7 linked regions of the Homo sapiens genome follow. The protein of the gene in region 3 purifies or fractionates together with the protein of the main gene of each other region. This does not show direct contact. Each region holds a gene or a part of one and is shown on either strand. Other genes may lie near its edges. The genes, in order: FBLN5, FBN1, HRG, KAT6A, P4HA1, IMPACT and PPP1R7.

Evidence for each region.
Region 1: the proteins of HRG (region 3) and FBLN5 purify together in Homo sapiens (affinity purification with mass spectrometry; one large-scale study listed by BioGRID and IntAct). This does not show direct contact.
Region 2: the proteins of HRG (region 3) and FBN1 purify together in Homo sapiens (affinity purification with mass spectrometry; one large-scale study listed by BioGRID and IntAct). This does not show direct contact.
Region 4: the proteins of HRG (region 3) and KAT6A purify together in Homo sapiens (affinity purification with mass spectrometry, with the first as the bait; one large-scale study listed by BioGRID). This does not show direct contact.
Region 5: the proteins of HRG (region 3) and P4HA1 purify together in Homo sapiens (affinity purification with mass spectrometry; one large-scale study listed by BioGRID and IntAct). This does not show direct contact.
Region 6: the proteins of HRG (region 3) and IMPACT purify together in Homo sapiens (affinity purification with mass spectrometry; one large-scale study listed by BioGRID and IntAct). This does not show direct contact.
Region 7: the proteins of HRG (region 3) and PPP1R7 purify together in Homo sapiens (affinity purification with mass spectrometry; one large-scale study listed by BioGRID and IntAct). This does not show direct contact.

The regions. Positions count from the first base shown.
Region 1 is NC_000014.9:91,941,195-91,944,694, reverse strand, and holds part of FBLN5 (fibulin-5 isoform 1 precursor), read left to right. Parts: intron 1-1,733; coding exon 1,734-1,788; intron 1,789-3,500. UniProt on the Homo sapiens protein: Essential for elastic fiber formation, is involved in the assembly of continuous elastin (ELN) polymer and promotes the interaction of microfibrils and ELN. Stabilizes and organizes elastic fibers in the skin, lung and vasculature.
Region 2 is NC_000015.10:48,481,710-48,486,353, reverse strand, and holds part of FBN1 (fibrillin-1 isoform a preproprotein), read left to right. Parts: intron 1-857; coding exon 858-980; intron 981-2,410; coding exon 2,411-2,536; intron 2,537-4,573; coding exon 4,574-4,644.
Region 3 is NC_000003.12:186,675,407-186,679,495, forward strand, and holds the end of HRG (histidine-rich glycoprotein precursor), read left to right. Parts: intron 1-1,616; coding exon of another isoform or gene 1,617-1,640; coding exon 1,641-2,477; 3' UTR 2,478-2,828; downstream 2,829-4,089. UniProt on the Homo sapiens protein: Plasma glycoprotein that binds a number of ligands such as heme, heparin, heparan sulfate, thrombospondin, plasminogen, and divalent metal ions. Binds heparin and heparin/glycosaminoglycans in a zinc-dependent manner.
Region 4 is NC_000008.11:42,044,739-42,049,606, forward strand, and holds part of KAT6A (histone acetyltransferase KAT6A), read right to left. Parts: intron 4,565-4,868; 5' UTR 4,240-4,564; coding exon 3,640-4,239; intron 1-3,639. UniProt on the Homo sapiens protein: Histone acetyltransferase that acetylates lysine residues in histone H3 and histone H4 (in vitro). Component of the MOZ/MORF complex which has a histone H3 acetyltransferase activity. May act as a transcriptional coactivator for RUNX1 and RUNX2.
Region 5 is NC_000010.11:73,005,894-73,010,411, reverse strand, and holds the end of P4HA1 (prolyl 4-hydroxylase subunit alpha-1 isoform 2 precursor), read left to right. Parts: intron 1-508; coding exon 509-605; intron 606-2,119; coding exon 2,120-2,190; 3' UTR 2,191-3,195; downstream 3,196-4,518. UniProt on the Homo sapiens protein: Catalyzes the post-translational formation of 4-hydroxyproline in -Xaa-Pro-Gly- sequences in collagens and other proteins.
Region 6 is NC_000018.10:24,442,880-24,447,747, reverse strand, and holds part of IMPACT (protein IMPACT), read right to left. Parts: intron 4,700-4,868; coding exon 4,596-4,699; intron 2,356-4,595; coding exon 2,282-2,355; intron 1-2,281. UniProt on the Homo sapiens protein: Translational regulator that ensures constant high levels of translation upon a variety of stress conditions, such as amino acid starvation, UV-C irradiation, proteasome inhibitor treatment and glucose deprivation.
Region 7 is NC_000002.12:241,170,405-241,175,272, forward strand, and holds part of PPP1R7 (protein phosphatase 1 regulatory subunit 7), read left to right. Parts: intron 1-4,868. UniProt on the Homo sapiens protein: Regulatory subunit of protein phosphatase 1.

The sequences.
Region 1 (3,500 bases), on a different chromosome or scaffold from region 3:
AGTGGCTTTTTTCACTTAACATAATACAGTCAGGGTTCATTCATATTGTAGCATGTGTCAGAATTTCCTTCCTTTTTAAGACTGAATACTATTCCCTTGTGTGTACAGACTGCATTTTGTTTATCCATGTATCCATCGAAGGACTGCGTCCACCTTTAGGCTATTGTGAATAATGCTGCTATGAACACAGGTTTACAAATACCTGTTTCAAGTCCTTGCTTTTAATTTTTTGAGGGTATATACCTAGAAGTAGAATGGCTGGATCACATGGAAATTCTATGTTTAGTGTTTTGGGAGTCATCATACTGTTTTCCATAGAGACTGCACCATATTTACACCAACAGTGCACAGGAGTTTCACTTTCTCCACATCCTCCCTAACGCTTGCTCTTTTCCATTTTTTAATAGCCTCATGAGTGTGAAGTAGTAGAGATTTTGTATTTTTATTTTGTTTTTATTTTTTGAGACAGAGTCTCGCTTTGTCTCAGAGCGTGTACCACCATGCCTGGCAAATTTTTGTATTTTTAGTAGAGAGACAAGGTTTCACCATGTTGGCCAGGCTGGTCTCGAACTCCTGACCTCAGGTGACCTTCCTGCCTCGGCCTCCCAAAGTGCTGGGATTACAGGCATGAGCCACCACACCCGGCTGCTTTTGTATTTTTAAAGCAATCTTGCTGGCCACAATCTTACTGGATTAAAGCCTGTGCGTGGCGAAGGGCAGAGTTGCAGACTCCCAGAGCATCACTGTCTTGTGCATGGCAGAACTGAGCCCAGGGTGCGTGACTCCTCCTCCTGTTTTCCCGCGGGTTTCATTTTCCCTGGGCTGTGCAGGTTCCCCGAGTCCTTTCCTCCATCAGGACCTGCTGGCAGCAGTTCCCGCAGGCCACACTCTTCAGGGGACAGGGCCACCCCAACCCATCCACTGATGGGGGATTTTCACACATGTGGACTCAATGCTCTGGTTCAGTGACTTCCTGTGACACCTTTCTTTGGTGCCACTCAAAGTGCCTCACATTCTCACTTTCTTTTCCTTTCACTGTTTGAGGGCATGATGATGGCTTATTCACTCTGTAATCATGTCAGCATAAAGATGTTCAAAAGTCAAGCACATCTCGCATAAAGAATAAAGACCAAGGAACTGGTTAATACCATAGTGGGAGGTTTTAGCTTTTTTGGGGGGTGGGGGGAGGACAAGGTCTCGCTCTGTCACCCAGGCTGGAGTGCAGTGGTATGATCTCAGCTCACTGCAGCCTCAAACCCCCTGGGCTCAGGTGATCCCACCTCAGCCTCCTGAGTAGCTGGGACTTTAGGCGCGTGCTATCATGCCCAGTTAATTTTTTTTTTAATTTTGTAGAAATGGGGTTTCACCATGTTGCCCAGGCTTGTCTCAAACTCCTGGGTTCAAGCAATCCTCTTGCCTCAGCCTCTCAAAGTGCTGGGATTACAAGCGTAAGCCACCGCACCTGACCTTAGCTTTTTTTTTTGAAGCAGCCAAACCCTTTATTAAAAAGTGTGATCTAACACATGATCCCAATGCAGGAGGCAAGTAGAAGAGGTGTGGTTCTGCTTGGGTGGTCGCGGTGTCTGGAACCACCATGACCTCCCTGGAGCACACCCCACCCCATACAAGCCCAAGGTGATATCACCGTTACACGTCACGGGCCGCATGCGACCCACACTCCCCTAGACCTGAATCTGTCTTGGGCATTTATATTTGACTTTTCACCTCCACAGGATACTCACTGTTACCATTCTGGCTCTCTGTCTTCCAAGCCCTGGGAATGCACAGGTAAGATTTTTATTTTTAAAAAATATCTACAAGCGTATTAAAATCCGGGGTGAGGGAGTCCAGCCTTGCGCTACGGAACCCTAGGTTTGTGGGGGTGGGAGTGGCTTTACAGTTGACCTCATCTGAGCTCTTCATTCTCAGAGGTTAACAGTGGAAGCTCAGAGAAAGTGAGACTTGGCCCAGGTGACATGACTTGTAAGTGACAAGGCTGGGGCTGGTACTCAGTTTCCTGACTCCCAGTCCAAGACTCTTTTCTATTTTATTATAAGTTCTAGGGTACATGTGCAGGATGTGCAGGTTTGTTACATAGGTAAATGTGGGCCATGGTGGTTTGCTGCACCTATCAATTCATCACTAGGTATTAAGCCCAGCATCCATTTTTAATCAGATCACATGGCCTCATTTGTGCCCCTCACAGCAGGCCTCAACCTACCTTCAGTGTTGAAAAGTAAAATATGCTGTAGTGTTTCTGGGCAATGGCACCTGAGGACCCCCACGGGTCTGCATGTGTTGCCACAGACACACCCCTCCTGGAGGAGGTGGGAGAGGAAGTGGGTGTTACCCAAACATCCCAGCATGTAGTGTTGCATAATTCAGCTCCAAACCTAGGAGGGCCCATCCCTGGGCTGAAACCCCTCAGAGGAGTAAGAAGGGGGTGGGTGAGGCCAGGCTCAGGGCCTTAGGGGTTCTGGAAGAAGCTTGCAGCATCCTGGACTTTATTTTAAGCAACAGGAGAGATGGACCCCTGTGTGTCAGCCCTGAAATGTGGGCAGATCCCTCCTGAAAACTCCGAGTGGCCTCTCTGTGTCTCTGGCTCAGGAAAGAAGTGAGAGAAGCCCTATCTCTGAGCAGGCTGAGGGCTGCAGGCAGGTAGGGGAGCATTTTCTCTCTTCATATTAAGAATTTTGAAGCATATTCAGGCCACTGGCAATGGGAAGGATTTTGGGAGGAGTAACAAAGAATTTTAGACCTTGCGGTTTTCTAAGGCAGCCTCATGGTGTACACATGAAGACAGGTAGGCCCCAAGGGCAGAGGTTCAGGGTCGTGTTTACTGCACTTTAGGCACGTTATATAGATTAACATACATCGTCCTTACCACCATTTTGAACTACGTACATACCCCCCCATTTTACAGATGGGGAAACTGAGGCATAGAAAAGTTACGCAGAGAGTAGGGGCTAGAGTGAGAATTTGAAGCCATGCCCTGGTCCAGCAGTCTTGAACCTATGCCAGTCCTTGACAACCAGGGCTGGAACCTGGATCTCCTGGCCTCCCAGCTTCCCGGCACAGCTTCCTGGCTCGTCTGTTCCACTTCCTTTGCCCCAACTCCCTGGGACCCCTGAACCCTCTCCCGGGAGTGCAGGCCATATACATCATCTCTGCAAATCAACCAACAGCTCAGCGAAGCCCAACCTCCGAAGCTGTAGAAAAGGCCAGGGATGGGAGCTCCTAGAAAATGTCAGGCCCTGGGGTCTTCCTGAAGAGTCCACCCAACACATTTTTTTTTTAAGTACATACATTTGTAGCTCAAGTTGTATGTAAAAGCTACAACCCTCTGGAATTGTTGAGATCTATCTCTTTCTGGAAGCATCTTTATGTCGTCATCTTGCTGAGGTTGAAATGGAGAAATTTACTCAATTCAACTTTTCTTAGAAAACTGACCACATCTCTGTGTAGCTTTTATTTATGTACAGACATCAAAATCAGGTAGA
Region 2 (4,644 bases), on a different chromosome or scaffold from region 3:
AAGTCTCACATGGTTTCCACCCAAAACCATAAATCAGCCCAAAGTTTTCTGAAACATGGCCCAGGACAACTCAGAACTTCAACTCAGGTTATTGAAAAAGATTGGAACCTCAGCCAATCAAACTGAATTTCAAGTTTATAAGTGAATCTGTGGCCAAGAGAATTTCATCCACGTGCCTATTATCATAACTGAGATGTGTTCTCCTAGCACCCAATACTTCTCCTGCATTGCAAATGGCACATCATGCATGGTGCAATTAATTGTTCATCTGTCTCCTGGCCACAGTGTAATCATTTTGAAGTCAAAGATTGTGTCTGTCCCATTCACTATTAGAGTCTCATCTCTAGCATATAGTAGGTATGTCATTAACATTTGTTGAAGGAATCAGTGACTCAGTTGCCCTAGAATGCTTTTTCCCCTTTATTTGACGTATGCCTGGAAATGTTAAAAATGTGCCATGCTCATAAACACAGAGGGAGGTGTGTTAGCCCATTTTTGTGATACTGTAATAGAATACCTGAAACTGGGTGATTTATAATGAATAGAAATTATTAGTTCACAGTTCTGGAGGGTGGGAAATCCAATATCAAGAAGCCAGGATTTTGCATGGTCCTTCTTCCTACGTTATCCCATTGAAGAAAGCACGAGGGTGAAAGAGAGCAAGAGGGGGCTGAACTTGATCTTTTATAACAGCACCGATCCCACCATGAGGGTAGAGCCCTCATAGGATGATTACCTCTTTTAAAGGCCCTGCCTCTTAAATAGTGTTACAATGGCAGTTAAATTTCAACACGAGTATTGGAGGGGACAGACATCCAAACCATATCAGAAGGTGATATTATTTTCATTTCTTTTAGACATTGATGAATGCAGCATAATGAATGGTGGTTGTGAAACCTTCTGCACAAACTCTGAAGGCAGCTATGAATGTAGCTGTCAGCCGGGATTTGCACTAATGCCTGACCAGAGATCATGCACCGGTGAGTAGGTTCTAGCCTCATGTTGAATCTCTCAGTAGGTTCCTAAGTAAAGTAGTTTAGGGCCCAGGCTTTGGAGTCAAGCAGGCTTGAGTCCAAACCCTTGTTTGTCATATATTTTAACTGTATCCTTAATCAAGATACCTATTATTAGAATCCTCATCTATAAAATGAAGTTCAAATTGCCTGCATAAAATAGTATTTACAGAGCTTACCATAGTACCTGGCATATAATAAATGGAATATAAAATACATTTTCCTTCATTGACCAGACTTTTGAAGAGTTTGATGTTTTGGCCTAATTCAGTGCAACTCCAGGTTTATTCCTTGAACCATTGGCAACAGCATCACCTGAGAACTTGTTAAAAAAATGTAAAATCTCAGGCCCCATTCCAGATCTACCGTATCAGAAACTACTGAGGTAGATCCCAGGAATTTGTTTTCACAATCTCTCCAAATGATTTGGATGCATGCTAAAGTTTGAGAACCAGTGGTCTAATTTACACTTCCTTTTGTATCACCCTGGCTGCGAGAGCTGTGAGCCAGGTAGAGGTGAGAAACAAAGTGGGTAATAACATAGGCTTTGATTTTGGCTTGGCTTAAGAAGAGAATTTGGATTTAGGAACCAAAATTATTTTACTGACCTAGAAAAATGTCCCTTAAAAAATCTAGATATAAATTTGGCTACAAAAATTGTTGAAAATAAGGCCAGGCACGGTGGCTTACACTTGTAATCCCAGCACTGTGGGAGGCTGAGGCAGGCAGATCACCTGAGTTCAGGAGTTCAAGACCAGCCTGACCAACATGGTGAAACCCCATTTCTACTAAAAATACAAAATTAGTTGGGTGTGGTGGCACATGCCTGTAATCCCAGCTACTTGGGAGGCTGAGGCAGGAGAATCGCTTGAACCTGGGAGGCGGTGGTTGCAGTGAGCCAAGATCGCGCCATTGCACTCCAGCCTGGTGACAGAGTGAGACTCTGTCTCAAAAAAAAAAAAAAATTGTTGAAAGTAAATATTATTACTAAGAGCATCTAAGTAGGTATGGTTATTTCAAGTAATTCTTACCTTAAAATATTGCTAAAACAGTTGATAGAATTCAGGCATTTATAATTTGACAATAGGGAAAATAAGATTTATAATAATTTTTGAATGATAAATTAAATGAAAGAAAGATTTTAAATAAATAATAGACTTTTAAGCAGGTGTGGACGTTGCCCTTGAGCAGTATATTATAAATATTGAAAAATATTTTTTCCTTTTTTACCAAGGATAACCCAATGGGCTAGTTTATGCAAAGCTTCATTTGGATTTGAGAGTTAATAGTCTTATGCTAGTAGGCTAAGTTTATTTGACTGCGGTCAGTTAATGTTTTCTCACTGAACAGTGGAACCAATATCAACAACCTGTGGTTGTTGGTTTTATTCTTTGCAGACATCGATGAGTGTGAAGATAATCCCAATATCTGTGATGGTGGTCAGTGCACAAATATCCCTGGAGAGTACAGGTGCTTGTGTTATGATGGATTCATGGCATCTGAAGACATGAAGACTTGTGTAGGTAAGCAAAGAAGACAGAATTTTTCATCTTGTCTTGTTAGTCATAAGCACTGTTAAATTACATAAAGTTAGTTTGGGTCAGTGATAGAAAGATTCCATAGGAAAAGTAAGGATATTTAGAGGCACAATACTCATATTTTAACCAGCATTCCAAAGAGAGCTTTCTTGTGGCTATTAAATGGTACTCTTGTCAGATATGTTATGAGGACTGACTGGCCATTCGTCAGCTCCAGATGGACATTTCTTTTATGCCTATCCATTACTTTTGTCCACTTAACCCTCCTTCTGCTTTGACTATCATGTAGGCTTTTTAAATCCTTGACTAAAGGCAAACAAAATTTACTTCTGACAAGAATGCAGTAAACTTTAGAACTGATCTATTTGTTTTGTATAGTTTCTATTGTTATGCCTTCAAATTTGATAAACTTTTCTTCTACGATCTCTAATCTGCCTTTCCTCACATACAGTGTATTTTTCATCTCAGATGTTGTAGTTTTCACCTCTAAAAGTTCGACTTGGGTATTTTTTCATATATTCTGTGTCTCTGCATAAGTTCAATCATTCCTCTAGCTGTTTGAACACATGGAATACAGTTATAACAACTTTTAGTGTCTTTGTCTCCTAATTCTGTCATCTGCATTGGTTCTAGGTCATTTGAATAAATTGACTTTCTTCCTTATTTTAGGTCATATTTTCCTGCTTCATTGAGTGACTGGTAATTTTTGATTGGATACCAGATAGTGTAAATTGTGCCTTACTGAGTGCTAGATATTTTTGTATTCCTAGAAATATTTTTGAACTTTGTTCTGAAGTGTAAATTACTTGGAAACACATGGATCCCTTTCAAAGTCTTGCTTTTAAGCTTTTAAGCTACACTTAGTCTAGGGGTAATTTTGCTCTGTTAGTGAGGTAAGACCCTTCTGGATATTCTACCCAATTCCCTGTGAATTATGAGGCTTTCCAGTCAGGCTGGTGGGAACAGGCACAATCCCAGACCCCCTGTGAACTTTGAGGATTGTTCCCTCTCATTTTCTTGGGTAGTGCTTTCCCCAGCCTTGAGTAGTTTGTTTCCTTATATGAATGTGCTGGTCACTACTCATCTGAATACTTGCAGAAGACTCTTAGCAAATCTCTGGCATTGCTTTCTTCTGTGTAGCTCTCTCCTGTCCTTTACTCTGCCCTATGAACCCTAACTACCTCAGCCTTCCAGGATGCCCAGATTCATCTCCTCAACTCAAGGACAGTGCCTGGCTCCATCTGGTACCTCCTCCTTATGCCATGAAGTTAAAACTCTCCTATTCAGTAATCTCGGGCAATTGTAGGATTCACCTAGTTTTTCTTTCTCTCAGGGATCACTGTCTTTTGTTGCCTAATGTCCAATGTCTAGAAAACCACTTTTTAAGGTATCTATTGTCTATTTTTTTTGGTTGTTTCATCTGAGAATATAATTTTAATTCCTGTTATTCTATCTTGGCCAGAAGCAAGAGTCTGGTATTGATTATATTTACATTTTTATCACATTTATCTTCTGAAAGCCTTTACTGAAAATGTTTGAAGTCCTAGAATTAAAATGAATGTCATAAAAAATGAATAATTTTTAATTTGGAAAAGAAGTGAAGTCTTAAACTACTTACACTAAGACAACCAGTTCATCTATCCTTTCTTTCAAAATATGAAAACTAAATTGTTATCATCATGCAGACTGAATTAAACTTTTCATCCTGCAATAGAGTATGCTGTTCTAAAAAGTTTTCTAGACTGTCACATAAACGAGCTCTAAACTCAGCATGGAGCCCATCTGTTTATTTGATTAACTGGCCTGCTGCTTATGGGCCAGATGAAAGCCAGTCTGAATAATGAGCTTGCAATGTAAAGAATGAAGAGCAAATGTAAATTGGCCTCTAAAATTTAACATTGTTTTTCTGAGGGAAAGCATTTTACCTTTTCTAATGTATTTGTCATAGTTATTATGTCTCGAGGGGAAAGTACTCAATGATATCAAATAGCTACATATATTAATAGTATATATGTTTTACAGATGTCAATGAGTGTGACCTGAATCCAAATATCTGCCTAAGTGGGACCTGTGAAAACACGAAAGGCTCATTT
Region 3 (4,089 bases):
TACAGAGAGTATCCCACAACTGGGGAAAGGAGTGCAATTGCCAGATTACACAAAAAGTATGAAAACTTTTCCAAGAATTGAAGAGGGGTAACAATTGGCAGAAAATTAAAATCATGTCCAATTCAACCAAACTTGAAGGAATTTGAAAATGCTCTTTGTAGTCGGGACTCTAGTGCTGAGACTTAGTCATTCCTAAGCTTATATTATTGGGCATAGAATCTAAGAGGAATATATCAGCCTCAAATTTATTATGTAAATGTATATAAAATAAGATGCAAAACCATATTTTGCATCTGTCTCAGAAATCTTTGGTCTATTTTTTACATGAGTACAAAGATTTGCTTCACGAAATTTTTCATATCAGAAACAAAACTTAAAATAATCCAAACATCCAATCCCAAGTTAAAAAAAAGAAAAAGGAACAAAGGGCAGGATTGTCACCATGAACATGGCTCTGTCTTTTTTTTTTTTTTTTTTTTTGAGAAGGAGTTTTGCTCTTATTGCCCAGGCTGGAATACAATGGTGCCATCTCGGCTCACCACAACCTCTGCCTCCTGGGTTCAAGCGATTCTCCTGCCTCAGCCTCCTGAGTAGCTAGGATTACAGGCATGCGCCACCATACCTGGCTAATTTTGCATTTTTAGTAGAGAAGGGGTTTCTCCATGTTGGTCAGGTTGGTCTCAAACTCCTGACCTTAGGTGATCCACCTGCCTCAGCCTCCCAAAGTTCTGGGATTACAGACATGAGCCACCGTGCCCGGCCTCTGTAGCTATTTTTTAAAAAATTAAACTCTGAACAAGGAAGAGAGAGAAGAGGTCAAGTGTTCAGCCTTTAGGAGTAAGGGATGTTGATACCATCAAGCCTCAGTTAAGAATATCAGTTATAAGGCACTAGTTTTCCAGTGTTGGTCTACAGATGGGTGCCAGGTCATAATATTGTTTCACCACTCTGTGTAGTAAAAATGAAAAAAAAATAAGGATAATGAAGTTTTTTATATCTAACATTTATCCATCTAAAGGACAATCCTTTACTCTGATATTGTGTTTCTGGCTCTTTCTTTTTTTTTTAAATCAAAATTTCATTCCAGGCTGGGCATGGTGGCTCATGCCTGTAATCCCAGCACTTTGGGAAGCTGAGATGGGTGGATTACTTGAAACAAGGAGTTCAACATGGTGAAACCTGTCTCTACTAAAAATACAAAAATTAGGAGTCTGGGCAACAGAGTAAGACTATGTCTCAAAAAAAGAAAAAAAAAAATTAGGTGGGCATGGTGGCTTGGGCGTGTAGTCCCAGCTACTTGGGAGGCTGAGGCAGGAGAATTGCTTGAACCTGAGAGGTGGATGTTGCAATGAGCAGAGATCGCACCACTGCACTCCAGACTGGGTGACAGAGCGAGACTCAGTCTCAGAAAAAAAAAATAGTTTCTTTTGTGAAACAATGATGGTGGTAAATGATAGTTATTGTTAATATTTTAAATATCAACTGGGCTAGATAACAATTTGAGAATCTTTTTTCGTAATACTTTTTAAATTGATTTGTGGAATCTATGATCTGGGAGCCATTGGTGTAAATCAAGTCAAGTATCTAACATCTTCTTTTATGTTACATGATGATAGGCACTTTTCTGTGACCTTTTCCAGGAACATGAGAACATCAATGGTGTACCGCCTCATTTGGGACATCCCTTCCACTGGGGTGGGCATGAGCGTTCTTCTACCACCAAGCCTCCATTCAAGCCCCATGGATCTAGAGATCATCATCATCCCCACAAGCCACACGAACATGGACCCCCACCTCCTCCAGATGAAAGAGATCACTCACATGGACCCCCACTTCCACAAGGCCCTCCTCCACTATTGCCCATGTCCTGCTCAAGTTGTCAACATGCCACTTTTGGCACAAATGGGGCCCAAAGACATTCTCATAATAATAATTCCAGTGACCTCCATCCCCATAAGCATCATTCCCATGAACAGCATCCCCACGGACACCATCCCCATGCACACCATCCTCATGAACATGATACCCATAGACAGCATCCCCATGGACACCACCCCCATGGACACCATCCTCATGGACACCACCCCCATGGACACCATCCCCATGGACACCATCCCCACTGCCATGATTTCCAAGACTATGGACCTTGTGACCCACCACCCCATAACCAAGGTCACTGTTGCCATGGCCACGGCCCACCACCTGGGCACTTAAGAAGGCGAGGCCCAGGTAAAGGACCCCGTCCCTTCCATTGCAGACAAATTGGATCTGTGTACCGACTCCCTCCTCTAAGAAAAGGTGAGGTGCTGCCACTTCCTGAGGCCAATTTTCCCAGCTTCCCATTGCCGCACCACAAACATCCTCTAAAGCCAGACAATCAGCCCTTTCCTCAATCAGTCTCTGAATCATGTCCAGGGAAGTTCAAGAGTGGGTTTCCACAAGTTTCCATGTTTTTTACACATACATTTCCAAAATAAAATGTGATTCCTTTGAAGAGGAAAATGAATAATACATTGAATTAGAAACATAAATAAAATGACCAGTAATTGTGAAAATTACAGTTCTTTTCAACCTACTTTCATACTGAAGATGCAGCAAAATGTGAATGGGAAAAGAGATGGCCTGAGAAGAGAGATCAAATGGAAAGGAGAGGAAAGAACTCAGTGCTGCCTATTAGTAGTTAATTCTGTCACTCACCACTACATCACTTGAGACAAATCTATGCCACTCAGAATCTCCTTCTTTCCTGGACTTAACTCTAATTCTAGAGTCTCTGTTACTGCTTGGGCTATACCTGGGCATACTAATAAAGTATGGTATTGAAACTATTGTTATCATTTATTTCATTTTATTTTCTAAGTTCCAGGGCACATGTGCAGGGTGTGCAGGTTTGTTATATAGGTAAAAGCATGCCATGGTGCTTTGCTGCACCTATCAACCCATCACCTAGGTATTAAGCCCAGCATGCTCTAGTTCTTTTTCCGAATGCTCTCCTGCTTCCCACCCTCCCCCTATTTATTATTATTAAAGTGACCTAAATTCTCTCCTCGTGATTATTACTAGGCATCTAAATTTTCTTTTGGAAAAATAAGTTCTAAATTCAGTATTGAAGCAAACAAACCTCTGGCTATAAATTGCAAAGAAGCTTGCTAACATGAATCATGACCATAAATTCAGGTGCATAAGAAATGTCACTTTATGCTCAGAACAAATTAATTTCTATTTGAGGATGCCATCCTACTGGCTTAGTGGAAATTTAACCCCAGTCCTTCTTGGAGTCCCCTTTCCCTGCCCTGCTACTTTCCACACAAAGTTGGGCCACAGTTCTAGGATCTCACACCATGCCAAGCTGTCCAGGTGGTAGGAAGCAGGATAGTGACTATCCCTCAGCCAGGGTGACTGTTGGACCAATGATCATCATCATGAGTGATAGCCATCCTGCTCAGGGATAGTCACAACCCTGTTCACATCACTCTTTCAGTCTGATTTATCTGCTACTTCTGTAGAAAACTGGGGGTGCAGGAATGTCTGTACACTAGCCATGGACATGACTGCCAAGGTATGGCATATGGCTGCTCTCTCCCTGGGATCTTGCTGTCTTCCCAGCTGCATGCCCAGAAAGCAGGGCAGAGATCTCCTCTGCCTCAGAGACCCCTTACCTCACTCTTCTCCCTATACCTTCTCCCTCAGCTAACGACTCTCTTGCTAGTCTCAGGTAAGTTCACTTTATTTATTTTTAGGGCCAGAAGACTTTTTCCACACTATACTCCTCTTTCTTTTTCCTCCTCAAATCAGGACTCAATCATTTGAAACAAACTAAAAGAATTCAGATTCTGTCTATCTTCCAACTGCAATAGTGATACTCAAAGTATTTCATAATCAACATGACCCAAGCACTGACCAATCAGACCAGAAACAACAACCTATCAGAACAGTCACCATCCATAAACAACCAGCGTGACCACACTGGCAGGTGCAGCTGAATGTGGCCCTGCAGAATCACATTCCTCCTGGAGGCATGGACACCAGGTCAGCTGCTTGAACAGGGAGAGGAGAAAGGTGAGACCCATGGAGGGCAAAAGATACAGA
Region 4 (4,868 bases), on a different chromosome or scaffold from region 3:
AGAACTGTTTCTGTTCCAAGCAGAGTGCCTGGCCCACAGTAGGTGCTCAATGACTATATGCTGAACCAATTAATTCCTAAAAGTGAAACTACTCCTGACCTATACACCTTCCTTTCTCCATCACTGTCAAATAAACTCTGGATAATTCTTTTCTTTTTTTGAGAACATCTAGGTTCGTAACAGCAAACTATCAATTCTGCATAGCAACTGACTGCGTAGTTCGAAGGAGAGGAAAGAAAATAGTTAAAATACAATAAAAGGAGCAGACATAATCTGTTCAAAGGAATAATCTCTCATCCTAGAGTTCACTGTATTACGATTTTTAATGTAAACTTTTCATATCTTTGGGGGAAGTCACACAGGAAATTCACTACTGAAAATAAGACTCCATTTAAAAATATAGAACAGAGCTCACCAACTCTAATTGAATAGATACTATCATGAAATTAGTTTTCCAATGAGATTAGTACATATACAAGTCTACCTGAAGAAACAAACTCTATTTTCCAACATGTCTAAATTTAGTTACTTCAGTTAACACTATAGGCAGGGTGGCTCATGCCTGTAATGCCAGCACTTTGGGAGGCCAAGGTGGGCGGATCACCTGAGGTTGGGAGTTCGAGATGAGCCTGACCAACAGGGAGAAACCCCGTCTCTACTAAAAATACAAAATTAGCCAGGCATGGTGGTCAGCATGCCTGTAATCCCAGCTACATGGGAGGCTGAGAAGGAAGAATTGCTTGAACCTGGGCAGCGGAGGCTGCAGTAAGCCAAGATCGTGCCACTGCACTCCAGCCTGGGCAACAAGAGCGAAATTCCATCTCAAAAAAAAAAAAAAAACAAAAAAACACTATATATGAAAGCTATGTAAGCAAATGGGCATTTCTTTTTCATTTTTTCAATTATTAAATCACTTTTGTTTTTCTTGCTTTATTTCTCCAAAATCAAATGTGGCCAGGTGCGGTGGATCATTCCTATAATCTTGGCACTTTGAGAGACCGAGGTGGGCAGGTCGCTTGAGGTCAGGAGTTGAGACCAGCCTAGCCAACATGGTGAAACCCTGTCTCTACTAAAAATACAAAAAAAAAAAAAAAAAAGTAGCCACACGTGGTGGCGCAAACCTATAATCCCAGCTACTCAGGAGGTTGAGGCAGAAGAATCGCTTGAACCCGGGAGGCGAAGGTTGCAGTGAGCTGAGATCACACCACTGCACTCCAGTCAAAGCAAAACAGCACATCTCTACTGAATTAAACTTTTCTTAATGCAAAGGTGCTATGAAATGGTCTCAACAAAGGTCCTTAGCTCAGCTGCAAAATAAGGACTTGGATTAGACGGTTCTCAGGGTCCCTTCCAAAAGTAAAATCTCAGGGTTCTAGGACTTGGATTTGTCTTGCACTGTACTATATTTACTACCTTTTAAAAATATGCTCAAATGACATTTTTATATAGCTAATATTTTTTAAAATTATCTATTGATAATTCAAGCAAGTGTAATTACAATAAAAGCAAACAACAGGCCAGGCACGGTGGCTCAAGCCTGTAATCCCAACACTTTGGGAGGCAGAGGCGGGTGGATCACTCGAGGTCAGGAGTTCGAGACCAGCCTGGCCAACAAGGTGAAACCCCGTCTCTACTAAAAATACAAAAATTAGCCGGGCGTGGTGGTGCATGTCTGTAATCCCAGCTACTTGGGAGGCTGAGGCAAGAGAATCGCTTGAACCTGGGAGGCGGAGGTTGCAGTGAGACTGCACCACTGCACTCCAGCCTGGGTGACAGAACGAGATTCTGTCTCAAAAATAAATAAATAAAAGCAAACAGGTGGCCTAACAGGAACTTATAACATCCAATTCACAGGTATGGCACTGAACTGATCTAACTATAAATTATTTCCTGTTTCCAGGCAGTTAACCTGTTAGATCATTTAATAATTGTAGAAATCCGATAACTGTATTTAAATTCAGCCACATGTGATAAAGTTTCTACAGGTAAGAGTTCTTACAGCACTTAAATATAGAATAAAGCATTTTAATTACTTGTCTACCCTGAATTTTTAATATATACTTTTAATAAATGCTCAAATTACATAGAGCCATTTTATGAATGAGATTCTCTATCAATTCATGACTGTATGAGAATCATTTCAAGGGTAATAACAGTAAGATTATGTTTTATTTCAATGTTCACAGGGAAAATTGAACCCTGAAATAGATCTCTAAAAATTTCATCAAAGAAAAATACCGTTAATTTTCAATTGTTAAAGAAAAATCTACAGGTATTCAGTGGGCTGCTAATAATACAACAAATTGAGATCAAATCTCCAATTTTCAAAATACATTCAATGTTAACTTTACCATCTTTCCACCCTAGGAGTATCCTCCATCATCTTAAGCAAAATGAAGATCATTTTACTTATGTCTACCAAGGTGTGCAGCAACTTAAAGCATCACTGCTCTCCAAGGAACTATAATTCAGAGCACCTTAAGTAAATTTACAGCTAAGATACTAGGTCAATGTAAAAAACAGGTACTAACAAAATTCTCCTAATCTCCAAATATCTATTTAAGCACCAAAATTTACTGTTTAAGAAGTCATAATTTCAACTATATACAATAACATCCTAAAACACAACAGAGTAAAGTACACATCTGGGCATCAAAACTCCCAACTCTCCAGAACTTTACCTTTCTTTTTGTTTTTAGAACAGGGTCTCAGTTGTCCAGGCTGGAGTGCAGTGGTGACAGCATAGCTCACTGGAGCCTCAGACACCTGTACTCAAGCAATCCTCCCCGACACAGCCTCCCAAGTAGCTAGGACTACAGGCGCGCCCATACCTGGCTAATTTTTCTATTTTTGGTGGACGTGGGGTCTCGCTATATTGCTCAGGCTGGGCTCAAACTCCTAGGCTCAAGACATCCTCCTGTCCCAGCCTCCCAAAGCGCTGGGATTACAGGCATGAACTACTGTTCCAGACCCTCCAGAACTTTTCTAGTTTAGGATACTGTATTCCTGTCCCATGCAACTACAGCTGTCATAAATAGCATTTAGGACTTCATCATATGCAAAGCCATAATACATGACAGAAAGCTATAATACAAACAGCAGAAACAAGAATTGCTAAGTTTGCTTAGTTGCGCCTATGGGTCATGAGAATCTGTCTCATTTCTGTCTAACGAGTAATCTGCAACAAAATGGAAAACAGAAAAATGTTCTCAGAGTCATCTGCTTGTTTCAAATTCAAGTCTCCATGATTTGGCTGCTCATCAACTTCCAGTAGTAAGGTGTTCTAAGAACCTTTAGTTAAAGTTTTAAAGTCTCACGCTGGAGTACTCCTCAAGCAAAATAATAAAAAAAAATTTAAAAAAAAGTTTTAAACTCATATGTCACTTTTTCATTGTAATGTAAATAAGTTCTTTTAGTCAGATTAACATTCTACATTTTTAATCTTAGGCTTCAAATATTTCAAAGTACCAGAACAAATCTATGAAGCTCTCATAGCTACAACTCACCAATAAAAAACCAGAGGTGATCACTCCACAGAAGTCCCCAAACAAAAAACTTGAATATAACTTCCCAGAAATGTGAATTTGTAGCATCCTATATCATCAGCTCTATAAACCCCGAAGCATATGCCATTCTTACCTTATCCTTTTCATGTGGAAGAAGGGACACTGGAGGTAAACAGGAAAGAGACTCACAACTCTCTTTCCCATCCACGTTGGTTGCTTTAGTGTTGAGCCGATAAAGAGGTCCATCTTTAAGGAGTCTGCCGTGGCCAATGGCACGTTTGATAGCCAATCGTAACTGCTGGTGAAAGCCAGAGGCAGCACTGCCTCCGAATAATGCAGACACATCCTTCTGACCTTTCAAAAAACGTTCAATGCTTTTCAAAGTTGAGCCACCAGACTCTGCCAAGCCCTCAACTGCCCGCTTTATCAGTTTATTCCAATCCACATTTTGTTTATTATCCAATTTTCCATGGTTCCGAGGCTTAGGAAGTGCTATTCGCCCAGGATTATCAGGATCTTTATAGGAATTGAGTCCTTTATTTGAGACTTTTAAAATTGTTCCATCTTTAACACTCAACTCCAATTGTTCTAAAACAGTTTTACGATCCAAGCCATGGGATGAAGACACAGCATTGCATATCCTTTCTTCTGAAGGACGCTGTTTCTGCTTTTTCACTTTTTTGATGGCCTCCAAAATCCACTCAGTATAAAGCGGGTTTGCGAGTTTTACCATGGTGAAGGATTCTGTATATCCATAGAGTCGTTATCCCTTATCCTGATGCTGAGTAAGTTTTACACCATGGAAAACAAGATTCTCGGAGGCTGGGAACCAGTTAACCATAGCATATGAGTTTTCTGGCCTAAGTCCTTCCTCCTTTCACAAAACAGAATGCCACCCCAATTGTACTATAGAAACCAAAACAACCTGTTGATTGAAATGTCTTCCAACTTCCCAATGAATTTCTCAATAGCACCACACATGGGTCTCGTCATAAAGTTGTAAGAACTCAAGAATATTTCATTCCCGGCTCCAGAGCAGAAAAATGTGCATCTTATGCCTGAAAAGCAATGAAAATAAGGTCAGTTTTCTACCAAGACCTATTTCGAATGAAAATAAGCATCCTCATCATAAAGCAATCAAACAGCAAGTGTTTACTAGGCACCCTTAAGAATTTCCAAACTTATCTATTAATATTCCAAAACAATCATGTATGTAAACCATTGGGATAAAAAAGAAAAAAAAAGAAAAGAAAAAAAAAAGATGAGTAATTAGGATACAATGAGGAAACACGATGACATGTTCTAAGAATGACCTTTAAGCTACCACTAACCAGAGTGGGTGATGGCTATTCTGTACTCCGC
Region 5 (4,518 bases), on a different chromosome or scaffold from region 3:
TCAAACATTTTTATGGTATTTTTCATATGATCAAAAACGGTTCTTAAAGTGATATAACCATATTTTCAGAATTATATTAGAGGAAAATAAAATACTGCTATAGAGTTCTTCCGCAGGAACAAAGGGAAAATTACTGCTGAAAACGGCCGGGCACGGTGGCTCACGTCTGTAATCCCAGCACTTTGGGAGGCCAAGATGGGCGGATCATCTGAGGTTAGGAGTTCGAGACCAGCCTGACCAACATGGTGAAAGCCCGTCTCTACTAAAAATACAAAATTAGCCAGGCCTGGTGTTGCACGCCTGTAATCCCAGCTATTTGAGACGCTGAGGCAGGAGAATCACTTCAACCTGGGAGGTGGAGGTTGCAGTGAGCTGAGATCGTGCCATTGCACTCCAGCCTGGGCGATAGAGCAAGACTCTGTCTCAAAAAAAAAAAAAAAGTAATAACTACCGAAAGCAATTACCTGGCATTGTATACTTGGGGATAATTGTGAATTGTTCTCCATAGGGAACTGCTGTTTTCTGGTATAATCTGTTTGCCAGTGGAGAAGGAGATTATAGTACACGGCATGCAGCCTGTCCAGTGCTAGTTGGCAACAAATGGGGTAAATATTTCATATATTCTGCGAAGATAATGTAATTTTTGTTTCTTATTTTGGAACTATTATCTGTGTCTTAAAAACAAAAGCCCCCATGTTTGCTTAATATGATTTTAACATTGTACAGGATTCAGCCAAACAAGTGCCTAATCATAATACAAATTTGAAATCAGAATTTTGATGACAGATTTTATTTTTAACTATTTTTACTTATTCCAAGAAACAATGACTGACTCAAAATTGAATAAGACAATATCTTCCCCTCAAAGGGTTAATAATCTGATTGAGACATACTAATGGATTATAATGTAGTACATATTAATACAAAAATGTAAACAGAAGATGGTGACTGCCTAAGTTTGGGGAGTCTTCTTCAAAGCTTTTTCTTTAAATTTGGTCCTGAAGATAGAACAGCAGTTTTCCAAACATGTTAGATACCAGGTTCTAATGTGAGGCTCGAGTAGCACCTAATGTGCAAAATTTAAAGAGGCACTCACTCTCAGTCAGGGACATGCAAGTGCAGGACCACATTTTTAAAAAGTAAAAAGAAACAGGTAAAATTAGTTTTAATATCTATTAATTAGCCCCATGTATCCATTTCAATCTGTGTTACTAGCCACATGTTGAGTGGTTACATACAGGACATTACAAGGTTAAGGAGTGAGGCCTGATCAGGATTTTAAAATCTCCCCTTATGATTATAGTGTTTAAGAACCACTGGACTAGAATGAGGAGAGGCTAGTTGGTGAGAGAGAGTTTAGAAAGCTGTTTTCTGTTGTCTAAGTGGGAGATGATAATGGCCTGGATTAAAGCATCAGTGAAAGGGTTGGAGAGCAAATAGATTTGAGAGAGATGTAAGGAAAATTGTCAGGGTTTGATGAATAAAGTGTAGATACAAGGGTTGAAGAAGGAAAAAGAGTTAAGAATTAAGGTTCCTGCTTTAGATATTTTGACTGGGTTCTATGGTACCAGAGACAAAAAAAAAATAGAAAATTAACTGCTTTTGGGATACATTTTTACATGGTATACATTTTTTAAAGGTATTTTGGAAACTTGATGAGCATACAATAGCAATGGTTGATAAGAGAGTTGTTCCTTTAGAGTGCAAAGTTTGTGTTCATTATTGTCTTTGTATTTTGGAGGCTGTACTTTGAAAACAATACATAAAGCAATATTCTACTCTTACCTGTACCTGTATCTTAGGTCCATTTGTGTCTCATTTCAAGCCTCACATTGAACATTGGAAACTGTAAGAAATGCACATAGACTGGCAAATATACATGTGTATACATACATGTATGTACATACACGCACACAAGTGTGTACACATATGTATATAGGTATATAAAATCTGTGTTTTCAGCATTTAGCCAAGTTTTTAAGTAGCATCTGCCTTTATCCGGTTTTGGTGTTGAACTTTTATCCCATGATGAAACTTTGTTATAGACCTAGCTTTTAGAAACTAATTAAATACTGATTAGATTAAGGGGGAAAATTAATATATTACTTTTCTCTCACAGTATCCAATAAATGGCTCCATGAACGTGGACAAGAATTTCGAAGACCTTGTACGTTGTCAGAATTGGAATGACAAACAGGCTTCCCTTTTTCTCCTATTGTTGTACTCTTATGTGTCTGATATACACATTTCCTAGTCTTAACTTTCAGGAGTTTACAATTGACTAACACTCCATGATTGATTCAGTCATGAACCTCATCCCATGTTTCATCTGTGGACAATTGCTTACTTTGTGGGTTCTTTTAAAAGTAACACGAAATCATCATATTGCATAAAACCTTAAAGTTCTGTTGGTATCACAGAAGACAAGGCAGAGTTTAAAGTGAGGAATTTTATATTTAAAGAACTTTTTGGTTGGATAAAAACATAATTTGAGCATCCAGTTTTAGTATTTCACTACATCTCAGTTGGTGGGTGTTAAGCTAGAATGGGCTGTGTGATAGGAAACAAATGCCTTACAGATGTGCCTAGGTGTTCTGTTTACCTAGTGTCTTACTCTGTTTTCTGGATCTGAAGACTAGTAATAAACTAGGACACTAACTGGGTTCCATGTGATTGCCCTTTCATATGATCTTCTAAGTTGATTTTTTTCCTCCCAAGTCTTTTTTAAAGAAAGTATACTGTATTTTACCAACCCCCTCTCTTTTCTTTTAGCTCCTCTGTGGTGAATTAAACGTACTTGAGTTAAAATATTTCGATTTTTTTTTTTTTTTTAATGGAAAGTCCTGCATAACAACACTGGGCCTTCTTAACTAAAATGCTCACCACTTAGCCTGTTTTTTTATCCCTTTTTTAAAATGACAGATGATTTTGTTCAGGAATTTTGCTGTTTTTCTTAGTGCTAATACCTTGCCTCTTATTCCTGCTACAGCAGGGTGGTAATATTGGCATTCTGATTAAATACTGTGCCTTAGGAGACTGGAAGTTTAAAAATGTACAAGTCCTTTCAGTGATGAGGGAATTGATTTTTTTTAAAAGTCTTTTTCTTAGAAAGCCAAAATGTTTGTTTTTTTAAGATTCTGAAATGTGTTGTGACAACAATGACCTATTTATGATCTTAAATCTTTTTTAAAAAAATGTTTGTTTTCTGTGTGGTGTTTTTCGTATTTAAATCCGAATGTATGATGTGGCAGTAACAGGTTAACTTATGTAATTTCTTTAGTACATAGGGCTTAGGTTTATACTCTTGGTTTCCACTCACACTAATGTCACATGGTTAAGAAAAACTTAGGCTCTCTGAAGTTTCAGATATTTCATGAATCAAGATGTGCTTCCTTCAAAGAGAGCTCTAAAATACTTTACTGTGGTTATGAAGTTATTATGGGCCAGGCATGGTGGCTCACGCCTTCAATCCCAGCACTTTGGGAGGCCGAGGCAGGCGGATCACCTGAGGCTAGGAGTTCGAGACCAGCCTGGCCAACATGGTGAAACCCCATCCCTACTAAAATTACCAAAATTAGCCGGGTGTGGTGGTGCATGCCTGTAGTCCCAGCTACTTGGGAGGCTGAGGCAGGAAAATCGCTTGAACCTGGGAGGCAGAGGTTGCAGTGAGCTGAGATTGCACCACTGCACTCTAGCTTGAGTGACAGAGTGACTCTGTCTCAAAAAAGAAAAAAATTATTACAATAGTGGTACTTAAGACTTTCTCCTATTAAGAAATATGATGCTCTTTCCTAAGTGGCCTGAGGTAATCTGAAAATGGTTCGCTATTCACTTGACCCGGAGAACCCCACAAAATCATGCAAATCAAGAGGTTCCAATCTTCGTGTTCACTTTAAGAACACTCGTGAAACTGCTCAGGCCATCAAGGGTATGTATATACAAAAAGGCACGAAGTATCTGAAAGATGTCACTTTACAGAAACAGTGCATACCATTCCGACATTACAATGGTGGAGTTGGCAGGTGTGCGCAGGCAAAGCAGTGGGGCTGGATCTTCTAAGTTGATTTTTTTCCTCCCAAGTCCTTTTTAAAGAAAGTATACTGTATTTTACCAACCCCCTCTTTTCTCTTAGCTCTTCTGTGGTGAATTAAACCTACTTGAGTTAAAATATTTCGGTTTTTTTTTTTTTTTTTTTTTTTTTTTTTTAACAAAGTCCTGCATAACAACACTGGGCCTTCTTAACTAAAATGCTCACCACTTAGCCTGTTTGGGCCACAAGGTCGGTGGCCCAAAAAGAGTGCTGAATTTTTGCTGCACGTGCTTAAAAACACAGAGAGTAATGCTGAACTTAAGGGTAGATTCTCTGGTCATTGAGCATATCCAAGTGAACAAAGCACCTAAGATGCACCAACGGACTTACAGAGCTCATGGATTAACCCATACATGAGCTCTTCCTGCCACATTGAGATGATCTTTACTGAAAAGGAACAGATTGTTCCTAAACCAGAAGAGGAGGTT
Region 6 (4,868 bases), on a different chromosome or scaffold from region 3:
GTATAAAAGCAACAGGTACTAAGACATATTATAAAGGAAGTAAGTGGCATGCATCTGTCTTCAAAGAGCCTTAAGATGTAGTGAAACAAAAAGCATATAAAAAAAAGATGAAGGCAACAAAACCAACATAAGGTAATATTTTATACTTTCCTCTCATCTTATTCCAGCCATCAAGCATTTCTCTATTTTCTTCTAAGAATGTAAAGATTTAAATTTTCCTCTGGATGGTTACTAATATTAGAGACAAATCGTGGTATTTTTATCCATTTAAACTAGAAAGCTATATCTGAAATAATAATGTAGGCCTACAATACAGTAAAATAAGCTTGGCAAATAAGTGCTAGAGAGAGAAAAAAAAAATAGTGTCAGTTACAGTATGCCATCTGGTGGATTTCTTAGGGCCCTACCAATGGTATCATGTGGAACTGGGTAAATGTAGTAAAGACATCCTCCCAGCTCTGGCCATAAAAAGCTGTAAACTTTTAATGTAAATACTAAAAGCTATAAAAGCTCATCTACACACCTAAGTCAGTTATGTTACCTTACAGCAGTCACATTCATTCATTCACTCATCCTTCCTTCCCTTCATCCATCCATCCACTCAATAAATATTTACTGACCATCTACTATGAACATTAAAGTTAAAATACTATGAGTACTTTTTTCTTTTTTTACATAGCTTAGATACAAGATTGTTGAAGCTGTAGCCACAGCCATAGAGGAGTGAAATAAAGAAAACAAATGAAATTGGATTATCAAATTCAGCTCCATCACTTAACTATGGGATCTTGAAAAAGCTAACCTTTTTACAGTGCTAGAATTGCTAACTAATAAGAGTTAATTTACATAAAGTTTTGGCACAGAGTAGGCACTCAAAAAACATGTAGAATAAATGAACATTACAATTTTTACAGCCCATTTTAATGACTGAGAGTAGTCTAATTCCTCATTTTCCTATTGAAGGCCATAACTGCTTAAGAAAACATTAAAATTCTATCCAGTGATACTCTATTAAGAGGGGAATTACATAACAAATAATTGTTTGTAAGTTTTGGCACTTAAAGAGATGTGAAATTAGTAATATTAAGAACTCACCTACTCAAAATGATGAATTTTTGAGTTTCAGTTTCAGATAGCCTAGATTCTACAAATAGTCTCAATCACATTTTAAATTTACACCAAGTCCCTGTGTTCTGATTTATTTTAGGCCTAAACTATGTACTTTTAAAGTCTTACAAATTTGCGTATTTTTTCAAATGCCCTTCATCTCTTCACTTACAAATCAGCAAAGATGCATATAAAAACCTGAATTCTCAAAACTGAAACTCATGTAGTAAAAGAAATACTCTTAATTCACTGCTTACAGGAGCATAAATTGGTTTTAAAAACATTTGGGCTCACACCTGTAAATCCTAACACTTTGGGAGGCCAAGGTTGGCAGATCACTTGAACTCAGGAGTTTGAGGCCAGCCTGGGCAACATGGCAGAACCCTGTCACTACAAAAAAATACAAAAATTATGCCGGGCATGGTGGCTCGCACCTACAGTCCCAGTTAACGTGGGAGGCTGAGGTGGGAGGATTGCTTGGGCCAAGATCACGCCCCTGTACTCCAGCCTGGGCAACAGGGTTTTTGAGACCCTGTCTCAAAAACCAAACCAAAATAAAACAAAACCTTTGCAAGAAATTTGGCTATATATCAAGAGTTTCAAAATTGTTCACACTTTTTGATAATTCTACTTCTAAGAATTCTTTCTTCCTTTTATTATATTCCCATTTCATTTCAAAAAAGAATCTCAAGCAACCAGAACCTATCCTGAGGAAATAACCTAAAAAGTATACAAAGATGTTCCCTGGACCACTCTTTATAATGGTGAAAAACATGAAAAACTAAAAGGAAATGGTTAATTGTAGTATGGCATCTCAAATATTTTACAGCCATTAAACAGTATTTATCAAGCAGTTATAACAATATGAAAAAGTGCTTTTGTTTAATTAAGAAAAAAACAGGATACAAGGGTAAATAAAGCATTGGGAAAAATTAAACTTTGCAGAGAAAAAAATGAAACAAAAAACAAAATATTGTCAGTTACATTTGATGGCAGAAAATGCCAGATTTTTCCCTTCAATTCTTTTTTATCTTTTCTGCAGTTTCCAAATATTCCATGTCTATTACTATTACAATGGAAAAAATACACAATAGTTATTATTTTCTAAAATCATGCATCATTTCCCTCTATTTTTAACAAACTGAGTATACTAAAGCTTGTGATGATTACTCACCTGTAGGCATAGATGTTGTGGGTGGCACTAGCTATTTTCTTATTCTCATACAATTTGGAAAGAACCATTTTCACCTTAAAAACAGCAATAATATAAATAAGTATGCTTTTTATATTTGCTCTGTAAATAAATGCTAGAAAAATACCTTGAAGCATGCTGTATTAAAATAAATAGTCACTTAAAGAGTCTACTATACTCTGAAAAAGTCATTTCCAAAGTTTCCTTCTCATTTTAGGGGCAGAGACTGGTACTCATAATTGGTATAAAAATGACAGACCTGGTATTTTTGAGCACTAATTATCAACAAATATTTCGGTACTACTATGTCAAAGGGAAAGTTTGTTCCCCATGTAGGGAATTTTAAATGTATCATATAAAACTTCTAAAAACTAGCTCTGAAATTTACCAAATGTATACATCCAATGTAGCAGGTGTACAATAGTGGTATGTTCCAAATGTTATAAAACCACATCTTTCTCTGGGAGTCAAGTAAGGTTCATAGAGGAGGTCACATGAGCCAGGTCTTATAAGTGGCAGTTCTCCTGCATCAAAAGGAAAGATGGGGCAGGAAGAAGACATTCCACACAGAGAATAGGGCTATATGCAAAATACAGGGACTGGGTGACCAAATTTAGCAAATAAAAGTACAGGACATCCAGTTAAATTTGAATTTCAGATAAACGACAAGTAATTTTTCTACTATAAGTACATCCCATGCAATAATGTTTACCTGAAATTCAAATTTAACTAGGTATTCTGTATTTTATCTGGCAACCTTAGTGGGAACAAAAAAGAGAAAAGTTCAGGAAGCTTTACACAGCTTAACTTAGAGTATGAATGAGATGACAGAAGATGTGTCATGAATGATAAGCTAGGGCCATATTACAAAGGATCTGTGTAATAAGTTTAGATCTTCCCTTGTAGACATTGGAAATCAGCAAAGATTACATGTGTGAAGGTGGATAAGAGAGAGAACAGAATGACACATGGTCAGATTTTTCAGGGATGTTGTAATGGCAAGAAGTATGGAAGAAATATTGGTGGCAGGGAAGACTGAGCTAGAGTTGGGGACACCAATTTGGATCACAAATTGTGCAATCTTCTGTTTATCATTTTATAATCTTTCAGGTTCTCAAATTCTGATCAATAAAATAGACAATGACCTCTAAAACTTGTTTCAGCTCTCACAAATTATAATGCTATAAATCTAAGTGACTGTGATCAGAAACAGAAAGAGGATCCAGAATAAACAGATTCAGAATTAGAATGTCTCAGGAGGACCCTGGGAAGAAGATGTGACTAAGGGCCAGGGACAAAATAGGATTCCTGAGAGAAAAGACCAGAAGTCTGCACCAAAAGTTATGATCTTGACCACAAGTCAACGCAGAAAAGAACTTCCTCTTTCAGAGAGTGAAACAGCCTGGTACAAAGAGCTGTATCCCTGAAGCCCAGGGCTTTAAAGAGCTTCAAGAGTAGGGTAGCTGCAAAGACCAAAGGAAGAGACTCATGCCTAAAACCTGCAGTAAATGAGACATTTTTAAAAATGTAACTTTACAGGTAGTATTGAAATTGCCTCGTACATCAATAATGTAAGCTGAGCTACATTATAGAAGCAAGGAAGAAGAAAAGGATTCTGCTGAAAGGAGAATGAGAAAGGCAAAGACCTAGGAATAGTTTATGGCTGAAACCTCTCCCATTTATATCCCTGGGTGGAAATATGGTCACCTAAGATCAAGAAGCACAAAGGAAAGTAAGTCAGGTAGGGAGGACTTGGTTTAGCCAGTCTGTCCACTGTCCCCTTTGTTGAATAATAACAGAGGAATGGACTTAGTTTCACAGAACTCCCATTCGACAGGACAAATAATTCTTTTTGACAAGGTATTAAGCATCATAATTTTCTCTAATAACACAATGGGTATTTCTTATTTAAAGATTCATTAGAGGGTTAACCCCTAATCAGAGTTTAGATACAATTTTGAAAGCAGTGACAGGCCTGGCTAGGTGGCTTATGCCTGTAATCCCAATACCTTGGATTGGGAGGGCTGGAGGCAGGAGGGCTGATTGAGTCCAGATTGAGACCAGCCTGGGCAACATGGTGAGACACCATCACAAAAAAAAAGAAAGAAAGCAGAGACAAACAGAAACAAAACAAATCTTCCGTGATTCACAGTAATTTGGGAGTAGAAAAATGAACAAATAATTTTTATCTTATATGAAAATAAAACATAAAAGTAAAAACAAGGGGATTATTGCAAAATCATTTACCTGAATTATTTTAGTAATCATCAAAGTGAGCTAGACAAAGGAACTTTACCTGTTTGGGACAAACCACTGGAGCCAAGTGTGCCTGAAAAGTACTTCTTCGGTCTGTAATAGGAATGCCATGATCAATCGGAGGTAATTCTTCTACTTCTACTTCTAGAAATGTAAAAGAAACTTTATTTTTTAAAAAGCCTTACATTCAAATACTGAAAAAAATGAAATGGGGGGGCAGCTGGGAAAGAAATGTAAATTACATGGCAAATCAACTAAAATAACCATTAATCGCTATCTACCAAAATTAAATTTAAATTATAATTTTAAGTAA
Region 7 (4,868 bases), on a different chromosome or scaffold from region 3:
AGAGAAACAGAATATAAGAAGTTTTTGCAGTTCCTCTAAAGGGGTTGGGAAATGATCCCCGAGTGGAAGTCTTCAGTGCTAGGATTCCCTTAGAGAAATCTCCTAAGGTTTATTGCCTTTCCGCTAGCACGTGGCCCTGCAGAGACTGCGGCACAGGTGTCACCCTGTGATGCTGGGAATGTAGTAGTGTCCTCAGATACATTCAGTCTAATCCAGGATTCATGCTGAGTGTAAGGCATCATTCTTCCTTGTCTCTCCTCTAGCCGTGCTGCTGACCCTGCTTATGTCCTGTGCTTTCTCCTTTCCCCACTTTAAAAGGTCATCCAAGTTTCCCTAGAACACAGGTGGCCTGCTGCAAATGTTCCTTGCCCCTTATTAGTGGCACTGGGTCTTGAGTAGTGTCATGATGGGATACCAGAGCATGTCTGGGAAGATCAGAGCCAGAATTTGGCAGGTGATAAAGATGTACCAGGCCAGGGGGAGCCTCAATGAGTCCAGGTGGGTCTATGTGCAGCCCACCCTTGAAGGAAGGTGTGGCTGGTGGTAGGCTGGTTGAATTAGTGCATAGGGAGTTGGCAAAGAAGCCAGGGAACAACACAAAGAAACCAAACAACAGGAATAAGGAGTCCAGAGACAGAGGACCAGGTGATAGGGAAAGGGCACCTGGCAAAAAATTAGGGAGCAGGTTTGGGAAACGAGCTGATACTGAAGCAATGTTCCTGAAGCGTAACGATTCCTTCTGCATGCCCTGCCTAGGAACAGAGCATGGGGCACAGAGTGCTGAGACCACAGGCAGGGGCCAACCTGGGTACCACAGCTAGCAGGGAGGCAGGCAGGCTGGTGATCAATCACTAGGGGCCAGGTAGTGCCTGACCCTGTAACACAGAAGAATCCTGTTCCTTAGGCCACCAAAGATAGTAAAAAATAGCCAGAATTTGCACAGCGCTTTATGGTGTCCATACCTCTCTCCATTCTGATCCAATTATCACAGCAACCATGTGGATAAGGTCATATTACCCCATTTTACAGGTAAAGAATTGCATTCCAGGAAGGAAAGCTGCAAACCAGGAATTCTCAAACTCAGTTCCATGCTCATATCACATTTGAGAGGCACATCATTCATCTCTAAGGCAGAAATAGAAAACCAGTCTTAACAAGTTTCTGATAACCCACATACTATGTTTGTTGATTTTTCTGCCTATTTGTTCCAATTACTGAGAGGAGAATGTTGAAACCTTCCAACTATAATTGTCAATGGATCCATTTCTCCTTTCAGTTCCATCAGTTTTTGTTTCTTGTATTTTGAAAGTCTGTTATCAGGTGCATACATATTTAGAATTGAGGAATTCTTGATGAATTGATCCATTTATCATATGAAATGTTCTTCTTTCTTGCTTATCCTCTTTATCCTTGTCCTGGAAGGGTATCTTGTCTGTTATTAACACAGCCCCTTCATCTGTCTTATGATTAGCGCTCTCATGGAATCTTTCTCCATCCATTTCCTCTTAACCCATGCCTTTATAATTAAAATGTGTTTTTCATAAAAAGTATGTAACTAGATCTTGCTTTCTTCTCCAGTCTGAGAATCTCTGCCTTTTAAGTGGTGTCTTTAGACTGCTTACATTTAATATAATTACATTTAATTACATTTTGTGTAATGGTTGAGTTTAAGTCTATCATCTTAGTATTTGTTTTTTATTTGTCTCATCTATTCTTTGTTTACTCTTTCCTACCTACTTTTTGGAGTGACTTTTTTTTTTTTGCAGTCTATTTTAACTCTATTATTGGCTTATTTGCTATACCTCTGTATTAGTGTTTTCTTGTTGATTGTTTGGAGGGAGGGTTGTTTTAGCGATTAGAATTTAAAAATACATTTTTAATTTTCACCATCTATATATTTTACATTTAAATATCTTACGATCCCCATGATACCTTATCTTTTAAAGAAATTTAAAAATGGCCAGGCGCAGTGGCTCATGCCTGTAATCCTAGCACTTTGGGAGGCCAAGGCAGGTGGATCACCTGAGATCAGGAGTTTGAGACCAGCCTGGCCAACGTGGTGAAACCCTGTCTCTACTAAAAATGCAAAACTTAGCTGGGCATGGTGGCACATGCTGTAGTCCAAGCTACTCAGGAGGCTAAGGCACGACAATCACTTGAACCTGGCAAGTGGAGATTGCAGTGGGCCAAGATCGTGCCACTGCACTCCAGCCTGGGCAAAAAAGTGAAACTCCGTCTCAAAAAAAAAAAAAAAGAAATTTAAAAACAAGAAAACTCACTTATTTTACCTTTTCTGGCATTGTTTATTCTTTCGTGTGGATCTGAGTTTCCACTTGGTATTTCCCTTCCACCTGAAGAATTCTATTGTTTTGTCGTGCATTCTGCAGTAAACCAATCCTTCACTTTGATTTGTTTGAAAAATCTATTTAATTTGCCTGCATTTTTGGAATTTAATATTATGGATACACAATTCTAGCTTGAGAGATTTTTTTTTCCTTTTTAAGTACATTAAATACTTTGTTCTTTCATCCTCTGGTTTGCATTATTTCTCCTTTATAAAATTTTTATTATTTTAAAAATATTTTTTAAAAATAAATAGAGATGGGGCCAGACACGGTGGCTCACACCTGTAATCCCAAGGTGGATCACTTCAGGTCAGGAGTTTGAGACCAACCTGACCAACATGGCGAAACCCCGTCTCAACTAAAAATTCAAAAATTAGCTGGGCGTGGTGGCACGTGCCTGTAGTCCCAGCTACTGGGGAGGCTGAGACAGGAGAATCGCTTGAATCCAGGAGGCAGAGGTTGCAGTGAGCCAAGATCATGCCACTGTAGTCCAACTTGGGCAACAGAGCAAGACTTTCTCAAAAAAAAAAAAAAAAAAAAAAAAGGACGGGATCTTGCCATGTTGCCCAGACTGGTCTCGAACTCCTGAGCTCAGACAGTCCTCCTGCCTCAGCCTCCCAAAGGGCTGGGAGTACAGGTGTGAGCCACCACACACGGCCCTGGTTTGCATTATTTCTAATAAGAAGCCAGCAGTCATTTTTATCTTTTTTCCTCTGGCTGCTTTTTAATGTTCTTTTTAATCATTGTTTCTTATTTTGTTTTGTTTTTTGCAACTTGAATATAGCGTGCCATGGTGTAGTTTATTTTCTGTGATGTGTCAGGGTTAACTGGGTCTGTGAATCTATGGTCTTCATCAAATGTGGAAAGCTTCTGGAGACTATTTTCTCTAAAACTGCTTCTGCCCTTGCTCCTCACCCCGGTTTCTCTCTGAAAACCCAGTTATGCATGTTCCCCTGGCACTAGCGAGGCCCCTGAGGCCATTGCCTCCACCCTGCTCCACCCCTTGGGCTTTCATCTTGCTGTGCTTGTTTGTATAATTTCTGTTGTTAAATCTTCAAGATCATGATCTTATCATCTGTAGTAGCCTATCTGCTGTTAAGCCCATGTCATGAATTTTTTATTTCAGATACTGTATTTTTCTCAACTCTAAAAGAACATTTGGCTTTATTTTTTTTTTTTTGGTAGATTATTTTTCTCTCTTCATTAGATTCATGTTTTCCTTTAAGTCCTTCCTTCTTCACGTCTTGTAATTTTTTATTAGATCCTGGGCTTTATGGTGTTCAATTGTTGAATGTCTGGAATTTATGTTGTTTTCCTTCAAAACATACTGAACTTTATCTGACAGGCAATTAAGTTACAGCTTGATCCTTTTGAGGCTTGTTTTTAAGCTTTATTAGAGTACATCTAAATAGTCTACTCCGTAAGATTAATCTAGCACTGTTTTGAAGCTGTGGCCCTCCTAGGATCTCTGGTGAATATCCTGTGTATTTAAGTTCTCTCCACTGTGGTTGACGGGAACACAAACATGGACCTGCTATGGGTGAGCTCTGGGCATTCTGCATCTTGGGGCTGCTTAGTAGTTCTTCGACCAGCCTTTAGCTTTTCACTCTGCCTAGCACAGCTTCATCTTCAGTCCAGGATTCCACAGGATACCATGTGGATTTCTGGAGGCTTTTTCCCTACATAGCTCACTCCTATCTATACATTCCAGCTCCCTTTGCCTCCCCAAACTACAATCACCATCTCAACTCTGTGTGGCCACCAGGCTCTGCTTGGGTTCCGCCTCCTTGTGGTCCTGAAAGTTCCTCCAGGCAGAAGGCCGGGATGATCACACCACCCACCTCATTTGTTTCCTGTCTCTCAAGAATCACTATCTGTGTTGCCTGTTGTCTGATGTATAAAAACAATTATTTCATATATTTTATCCTCTTTTTTTTTTTTTTGAGATAGAGTCTTGCTCTGTCGCCCAGGCTGGAGTGCAGTGGCGCGATCTCAGCTCACTGCAAGCTCCGCCTCCTGGGTTCACACCATTCTCCTGCCTCAGTCTCCTGAGTAGCTGGGACTACCGGTGCCCGCCACCACGCCTGGCTAATTTTTTTTGTATTTTAGTAGAGACAGGGTTTCACTGTGTTAGCCAGGACAGTCTCCATCTCCTGACCTCATGATCCGCCCGCCTTGGCCTCCCCAGGTGCTGGGATTACAGGTGTGAGCCACCGCGCCCGGCCTATTCTATCCTATTTTCTAGTAGCTTGTGACAAAGGCAGGAGCTCAGCACCAGCTATTCTGTCATGGCTTGAAACAGAAGTCCTACTTATTTATCTTACTTTTGTGTCTGTCTCCCCCACTGTATAATACAAACCTCATAAGGGCAGGGAAATTAGTGTTTGGTTTACTTTGTTTTCCCTCCCAATTTCTTTATTGTGGTAAAACATGCATAAAATAAAACTCACCATCTTAACCATGTGGAAGTGTACAGTGAGTGGTATTCAGCACATTCGTAATGGTGCACAGCCATCACCACCG